2 linked regions of the Homo sapiens genome follow. The protein of the gene in region 2 interacts with the protein of the main gene of each other region in a biochemical or structural test. Each region holds a gene or a part of one and is shown on either strand. Other genes may lie near its edges.

Region 1 (3,278 bases), on a different chromosome or scaffold from region 2:
GATAATCGTTCATAGACAAAAAGATGTGCATATGTTTTTAACAGCAATTATTTGTTTTTCTCACAGCAGGAATCCCAGCTCCAGTGTATTTTGGAGTTTTGATTGATACTTCATGCCTCAAATGGGGATTTAAAAGATGTGGAAGTAGAGGATCATGCAGATTATATGATTCAAATGTCTTCAGGTACCAAATCAAAAGCATTCCCGCATCTCATTGCTACAGCATCCCAGATTTACACAATGCCACTGACACTAACAAGTTTTCATGTCATTTCACTGCTTGTAAGGTAAAGAATAGTCTAATCAAAAAGTGTGATCTGTAGTCATAGAATAATTATATTATTATTTGATTAGATCTTTGATTTTGTCCCTATTCATTACCTTGACCCCCATTTTAAATGAGTAATCATTTTTAAAATATGACAAAAGTGTCCAGAATACAGTAGAATTTTGAAAGTTTATGCACACAAATGGGCAAGTATTTCCCTGAAATTCAGAGGCATTTAAATTTAGGTCACATTTTGGGTTTGATTTTTATTCTTTTTCAAACTGAGCCAAACTGTACCACTTACGTCAGATATAATACCCCTGGGCAAGAGTTGGATTTGGCTCTAAATCTGTCCGGCTTTTATTGCCAAACTAATGTTCAATTATTCTCGTACTTGAAATGCATGAAAGTAAAAGGTTTTCTCTGTGTGGGTGAGTGTATATGGGGGTTGGGTGGCGTGGCTTTTTCACTATGGTATCATTCAGTTCAGCTCATTAAACATTTAGTCCCTTATTGCTTAAAAAAATGCAAAAAGCATTGAAGCAATGGCTTAAAAGCAAGAAAGATTGTTTAAAAGACTTACAAACTGAGCATTTTCTGGAGAAATAAACTTGGTACTGAACCATCTAAGTTGGATGTGAATTGGGCACACCATTTTGAATAAATTTGTTTGAGTTAATAGGTTTTGATGCTATGCGTGAAATTTATTTTGGTCTTTGAAAGGGACCCAATCTGTGAGTATAATTTAGTATTTCCTCACATTTTTGCTAAGGCTGTATTAACTGTAATGTAGAGACAATGCAACTCAATCAGAGATTGAGAGTATGTTTTCAAGGTAACCAGAATGAGACATTCAACCTGTTCTTCCATACCTTAGCATCTTCTGACAAAGCATAGAACTATAGGTTTCTCATGAAATAAACTGATTTAAATCTCTGGTTTATTCTGAAATCATTCTGCTTTACTCAGAGCTCCAATTCCCATTAGCATTTCTTTATGCAAGTTTTCCAAAGAAATGAAGTTGGGAAAGGTCTGAGGATAGGGTAGCCACATAATTTATCATTCAAAACTGGGTACTTTTGAGTGTGAAAAGGAGCACTATTAAAATTATACTGGGCCAGCACTAGCATAAACTGGGGCTGTTCTAGGCAAACAGGGATATGGTTACCTGGTCTAAGGAAATAATTTACAGAGAGGATGAAACTGATTATGTAATTAGTAGTAACTAAAAATGATGGTGCTACTAAGACATTGCTTTATTTTATAAACTGCCTTCAACAGTCTGTCAGTATTTCATAAAACAGTCTTTTATATAAGCCACCAAATCTACATTCTTAAAGAAAACCATCAGTATGATATTATTACCTTTTAAATTTTCTTTCAAGTTGGTTGTTGCATTAATTATAACAGAGATTCTCTCTTCTTCTAGACATATATATCTGGGACTAACTGTGATACTGGGCACAGTGTCAATTCTCCTAAGCATTGCAGTACTTTTCATTTTAAAGAAAAATTATGTTTCAAAACACAGAAGTTTTATAACCAAGAGAGAAAGAACAATGGTGTCTACAAGATTCCAAAAGGAAAATTACACTACAAGTGATCATCTGCTACAACCCAACTACTGGCCAGGCAAGGAAACTCAACTTTAGAAACATGATGACTGGAAGTCATGTCTTCTAATTGGTTGACATTTTGCAAACAAATAAATTGTAATCAAAAGAGCTCTAAATTTGTAATTTCTTTCTCCTTTCAAAAAATGTCTACTTTGTTTTGGTCCTAGGCATTAGGTAATATAACTGATAATATACTGAAACATATAATGGAAGATGCAGATGATAAAACTAATTTTGAACTTTTTAATTTATATAAATTATTTTATATCACTTACTTATTTCACTTTATTTTGCTTTGTGCTCATTGATATATATTAGCTGTACTCCTAGAAGAACAATTGTCTCTATTGTCACACATGGTTATATTTAAAGTAATTTCTGAACTGTGTAATGTGTCTAGAGTAAGCAAATACTGCTAACAATTAACTCATACCTTGGGTTCCTTCAAGTATTACTCCTATAGTATTTTCTCCCATAGCTGTCTTCATCTGTGTATTTTAATAATGATCTTAGGATGGAGCAGAACATGGAGAGGAAGATTTCATTTTAAGCTCCTCCTTTTCTTTGAAATACAATAATTTATATAGAAATGTGTAGCAGCAAATTATATTGGGGATTAGAATTTTGAATTAATAGCTCTCCTACTATTAATTTACATGTGCTTTTTGTGTGGCGCTATAAGTGACTATGGTTGTAAAGTAATAAAATTGATGTTAACATGCCCAATTATTGTTCTTTTATGAATCCAATGAATTTAAAACTATTGTTAAATATAATACTGCCCCACTTTAATATATGTAAGCAACTTCCTACTTATACACGACGTGTTCCTAAAACATGTTTGAAAGGTGAATTTCTGAAAGTCTACAATAAATGTAGGTGTTACAACAGGAATGGAGAGTGATGGATGAATTGATGGGAAGTCTGAGTGTGGTACCTTTTGGTGCTCCACAGGCCCACATCACAGGGCCTAGGGACTCCTGCACAGGGAGTTCCCCCTGGGACAGCCTGCCAGATAGCTCTGTTTCTCTGCAACTGAAAAAGTCAAGCCAAGAGTTTCTTTTCTTTTTTTTTTAAGACATAGTCTCACTCTGTTGCCCAGGCTGGAGTGCAATGGCGCGATCTCGGCTCACTGCAAGCTCCGCCTCCCGCGTTCACGCCATTCTCCTGCCTCAGCCTCCTGAGTAGCTGGGACTATCAGCGCCCGCCACCATGCCCGGCTAATTTTTTGTATTTTTAGTAGAAACGGGGTTTCACCGTGTTAGCCAGGATGATCTTGATTTCCTGACCTCGTGATCCACCCGCCTCGGCCTCCCAAAGTGCTGAGATTACAGGTGTGAGCCACCACGCCCGGCCAAGAGTTTCTTCTTTCCTGACTTCCTGATGCTCTTCTG
Region 2 (4,105 bases):
CTCAGCCTCAGCCCCGATGTCAGCACTGAGGCCTCACCCCCCAGAGCTTCCCAGGACATTCCTTGCTTGGACAGCAGTGCCCCTGAGAGTGGCACACCTATGGGTGCCCTGGGCGACTGGCCTGCCCCTATTGAGGAGCGTGAGAGCCCGGCAGCCCAGCCCCTGCTGGAACACCAGTACTGAGCTACCTGGCGCCCACTGGACCACCTCCTAGGATTCAGTAACGGACCTGCTCTGCTGCCTCTCTGCTGGACCACAGAACTGAGTGGCTTTGGCCTACATGTCTGAACCCTGACCTTTGGCTGCCTTGGCCAGAGTACCAAAACTGAGTGACCCAGACCTCTGACCTTGACCCCTGATCTCTCTCATCCCCAGTCCAGGGCCTGGGCTCCCCAGATGGAGGCAGTCAGCCTCCCAGCCAGGCCCTAAGAGCCAAACCATGGGCTGGTCCCACTTGGAGCCTGTGGCCAGGACCACCTCAGCCCCTGGGCCTGCACTGCCTGCAGGTGTGGCCCCCTTGGCCTGGACCTGGGGCCTGAATTGTGGGAAGGGTGGTTTCTTTCTTTCCTTTTTTTTCTTTTCTTTTTTTTTTTTTTTTTTGTGCTTCGGAGACATCAGAATTAATAACACTATTTTTGATTTTGGTTGGCAGTTTCTTTTTCTACCTGGGAATGGGTACATGATAGTACAGGCGGCTAAGTTGGGATGGACAAGCACGCAGAGGGGTGAAGGATGTGGGGCTGAAGTCTAGTAGAGATCAAGGGCAGACCAAGGTGGGGTTCAGGTAGAACCGGGTCCTCTTCACCGCATGGCTGCTCCCTTTTCAAGCCTTTATCTGAAGGGTATTGTCTGCCATTTCCCACCATATGGTCAGACTTCCAGGTCTGGTGGCTCCTACATTTATCAGGCTTGTTCTTGGCCAAAGCCTTTCTCTGCACCTCAGCTGCTCCAGGGCGTAAAGAGATGACACCTATCTAAGGTGTTTTTAGAATAAATGAGAGCGCGCTAGTGGAATGGTTGCCCAGGGCCCAGTGCTTAGCAAGTGCTCCATAAAATAGTGGCAGACTCTTGAGCACCTGCTGGCCGGGAGCTGGACGCTAGGTGGCCTCCGCTAGCCCTCCCGGTTGGTCTGGAAGGCAGGCACAAGTTTCTCAGGAGAGGAAATGGCCTTAGAATGAGCACTGCTCGGTGCTGACCTCCGCCAGGCCTGGAATCCCCGCTGCTGCGCTTCCCGCCGCAGACAGCTCCCGGCCGGCCCCGCCTCCCGGCATGGCCCCGCCTCCCAGCATGGCCCCGCCCCCAGGCGGAGCCGGCGCCGGGAGCGGTAGCGGGAGAGCGGCAGCGGGACCCCAGCGCGGGCGGCGGCGGCTGGGCGGGAGCCCCAGAGGTACTGGCGGGAGCAGGGGACGGGAGGCACTACTGTCGGGCCCGACAGGGGAGAGGTGGCCTAGCCGTGGGCCCGGGTGATGTGTATGGGAGTGGGGTCCTCGCCACGTTCGCCGCCAGCACCCTCCCAACTTCCCTCCGGGCTCCAGCTCAGTCCCGAGTCAATATGTCCAGCCCCCTGTCTCTGACCAGCCGTTCCTACTCTCTCTGTGTGACGGCTTAGCCTGGCCAGCCAGCCGGTGAGTGGAAGCGGCGGCTCCTGACTCCTGGTGGCGGCACTGTGACCCCCTCCCCCTCAACACTGCAAGTGTGTGCGGGGCTCCCCCTTATTCTGAGGCTCCTCTTCTTCTTAGGCGGCCTCCACCCCAGTCCCTGGCCTGGCCTGGGAGGAAACATCTGTCGCGCCCCCTGGCAGCCGAAATGGGGTCATGACCTCCAGATGTGCTGGGAAGTGGCCAGCTCCTCCTCCTGGGGCAGCCAGGCCTTCCGGATCTGTGGGGGCGGGGCCGGCCCTTTCCCCCCACCCCTAGTGACACAGGCCCGGAGGAATGTCCTAGCCTCAATGGACCCTGTGTGAAGCTTCAGGGTGGGGGGCAGAGCCCGAGAACACCCCTCAAGGCAGCGCCAGAGCCTGGCACTGGGCCACAGCAAGAGGCAGCGCACAGGCTGGGTGCACACATGCACAGATCTCACTTCCAAGCGTGCAGAGCTCAGCCCACAAGGAGCGGGGCTTGCACAGACCCCCTCCCTCATGCCCTCCTACTCCTTCACACACTATAGCCCAGGCCCGAGCGCTGAATGTGCCCAGAGCTTGGCTCATGGAGCCAGGGGCTACACCCGTCACACACACACATAGCTAGCGACACTCACCTCATTCTTCTCAGTCTCTCAGCAGCCTTGGGAGGGGACAGAAATAATTAAACCCAATTTTTTTCTTTGTTTTTTTGGAGACAGTCTCACTCTGTCCCGCAGGCTGGAGTTCAGTGGCGCGATCTCGGCTCACTGCAACCTCTGCCTCCCAGGTTTAAGCGATTCTCCTGCCTCAGCCTCCTGAGTGGCTGGGACTACAGGTGCGCACCACCACACCCGGCTAATTTTTATGTTTTTAGTAGAGACAGGGTTTCACCATGTTAGCTAGGCTGGTCTTGAACTCCTGACCTCAGGTGATCCCCCCGCCTTGGCCTCCCAAAGTGCTGGGATTACAGGCCACAGCCACCGCACCCGGCCAGTTAACCCCATTTTAGAGATGAGAAAACAGAGGCTCAAGGTCAGCATGGGAGTTTATTCAGGAGAAATCAAGGTAGAAGCACCTGGGCTGGGGAGCCGACTCTTGCTTGGTTCTGGAGGCCCCAGACGAAGGGTGTGTGGAGCCCCTCCTCCACCCCCCTCCGGCCCAGCCCCGCATGATGTTGCTGGATGCTGCATGAAGACCCACCATTAGATGCCTGTACCCCCAGTGGAGGTTCCCCAGCTCCCTGTCCTCACTGCCTACTCCATCCAGGGCTTGCCTGGGTGTGGCTTCCCTCAAGTTCTCACACCACCATTTGCACCTGCCTCTGGCGTCACGTTTCCGCACTTAGCAGGTCCCTGGGGCTTTGGGTGTCTCAATCTTGCATCCTGTGAGACCTTGAACCTCAGCCCAACACCCACCCCCCAAAACCTACGCACACAGACAGCAGTGGGCAGGTGCAGCCCTGCTTAGGGCCTGGAGATGGGCAGACCCAGGCTCACATCCTAGCTCTGACACGGAATTGCTTCAGGCAAGAGCATCTCCTCTGGACCTCATCTGACCATCTGTCACATGGGGTTCAGACCTCCCTGTCTGCATCAGTGAGACCAGGTAGGCAGAGGTCCCTATGGGTCCCTGTCATTGTGACTCCTCTTGCCCCCAAGCCTGGGCACAGTAGCCTGCAAGAAGGTGAGTTGGCCTGTCCTTCAGGGCAGGGTGACTGGGGTCCCATGACAGCTGCTGTGACCCCAGCACCTTCCTCAGGATGTGGGGGCCTGGCAGAGGGCTGGGCCCACAGTTGGGGCTACTTCCTGTGCTGAAGGAAGTCCTCTTGCCATTCCTGCTGCCCTGCCGCTGCCTCCCTGGGAACCCATGTGTCCTTGTGGTATTGAGGCCTTGAGGTCCAGGGCACTGAGATCAGACCTCTCTGGGTGATCAGCTCTCCAGGGACCCTGAAGGAAGTGGGAGGGGCAAGGAGGAAGGTCTCTGGGGACAGGACGTCCTCCCTTTGTTAAGTGGGCAGGACCCAGACACCAGTGGCCCCTGGGTTTCCCGTCCCAGCCAATACAAGTCATCTGTCCGGTTGGGCTAGGTCCTGGTGGGACCCTTACTCTGGGCCCAGGCCAAAGCTAAGGTGTGTGGGTGGCGACTGGGGGACCCTGGCAGTCCCAGGGCTGCCCAGGCTCCAGGACCCTCAGGACCAAGACCCAACAGCCCAGCCTCTAGCCTTGCCCAGCTAAGCTGGGGAGGGGGCTGGAAACTTTAGCCCTAGGCAGACAAGGAAGTGGCCTGGAAAGCGGAAGCAGCTTTGATGGTCTCGGAGGGGGCCGGAAGCCAACACGGGTGGTGGAGGACCAGGCTGGGGGCCTGGGTTCCTGTTTTCTGCCCAGGCCCCTCTGAGCAGCCCCCTCCTCCTTCAGGGCAGGAACTGCTGCCACAACCTCAGGCTGGGCACCAAACACCCGTGCCCGCCAATGCGGCCCAGCCCCC

Evidence for each region. The genes of interacting proteins can lie anywhere in the genome.
Region 1: the proteins of SIPA1 (region 2) and SLCO1C1 interact in a test that uses a peptide from one of them, tested with the Homo sapiens proteins (one large-scale study listed by IntAct).

The regions. Positions count from the first base shown.
Region 1 is NC_000012.12:20,750,609-20,753,886, forward strand, and holds the end of SLCO1C1 (solute carrier organic anion transporter family member 1C1), read left to right. Parts: intron 1-66; coding exon 67-184; coding exon of another isoform or gene 185-287; intron 288-1,697; coding exon 1,698-1,920; 3' UTR 1,921-2,778; downstream 2,779-3,278. UniProt on the Homo sapiens protein: Mediates the Na(+)-independent high affinity transport of organic anions such as the thyroid hormones L-thyroxine (T4), L-thyroxine sulfate (T4S), and 3,3',5'-triiodo-L-thyronine (reverse T3, rT3) at the plasma membrane.
Region 2 is NC_000011.10:65,636,796-65,640,900, forward strand, and holds the start of SIPA1 (signal-induced proliferation-associated protein 1), read left to right. Parts: upstream 1-1,305; 5' UTR 1,306-1,387; exon of another isoform or gene 1,388-4,035; 5' UTR 4,036-4,105. Other genes in the region: PCNX3 (pecanex-like protein 3), read left to right, coding at 1-183. UniProt on the Homo sapiens protein: GTPase activator for the nuclear Ras-related regulatory proteins Rap1 and Rap2 in vitro, converting them to the putatively inactive GDP-bound state. Affects cell cycle progression.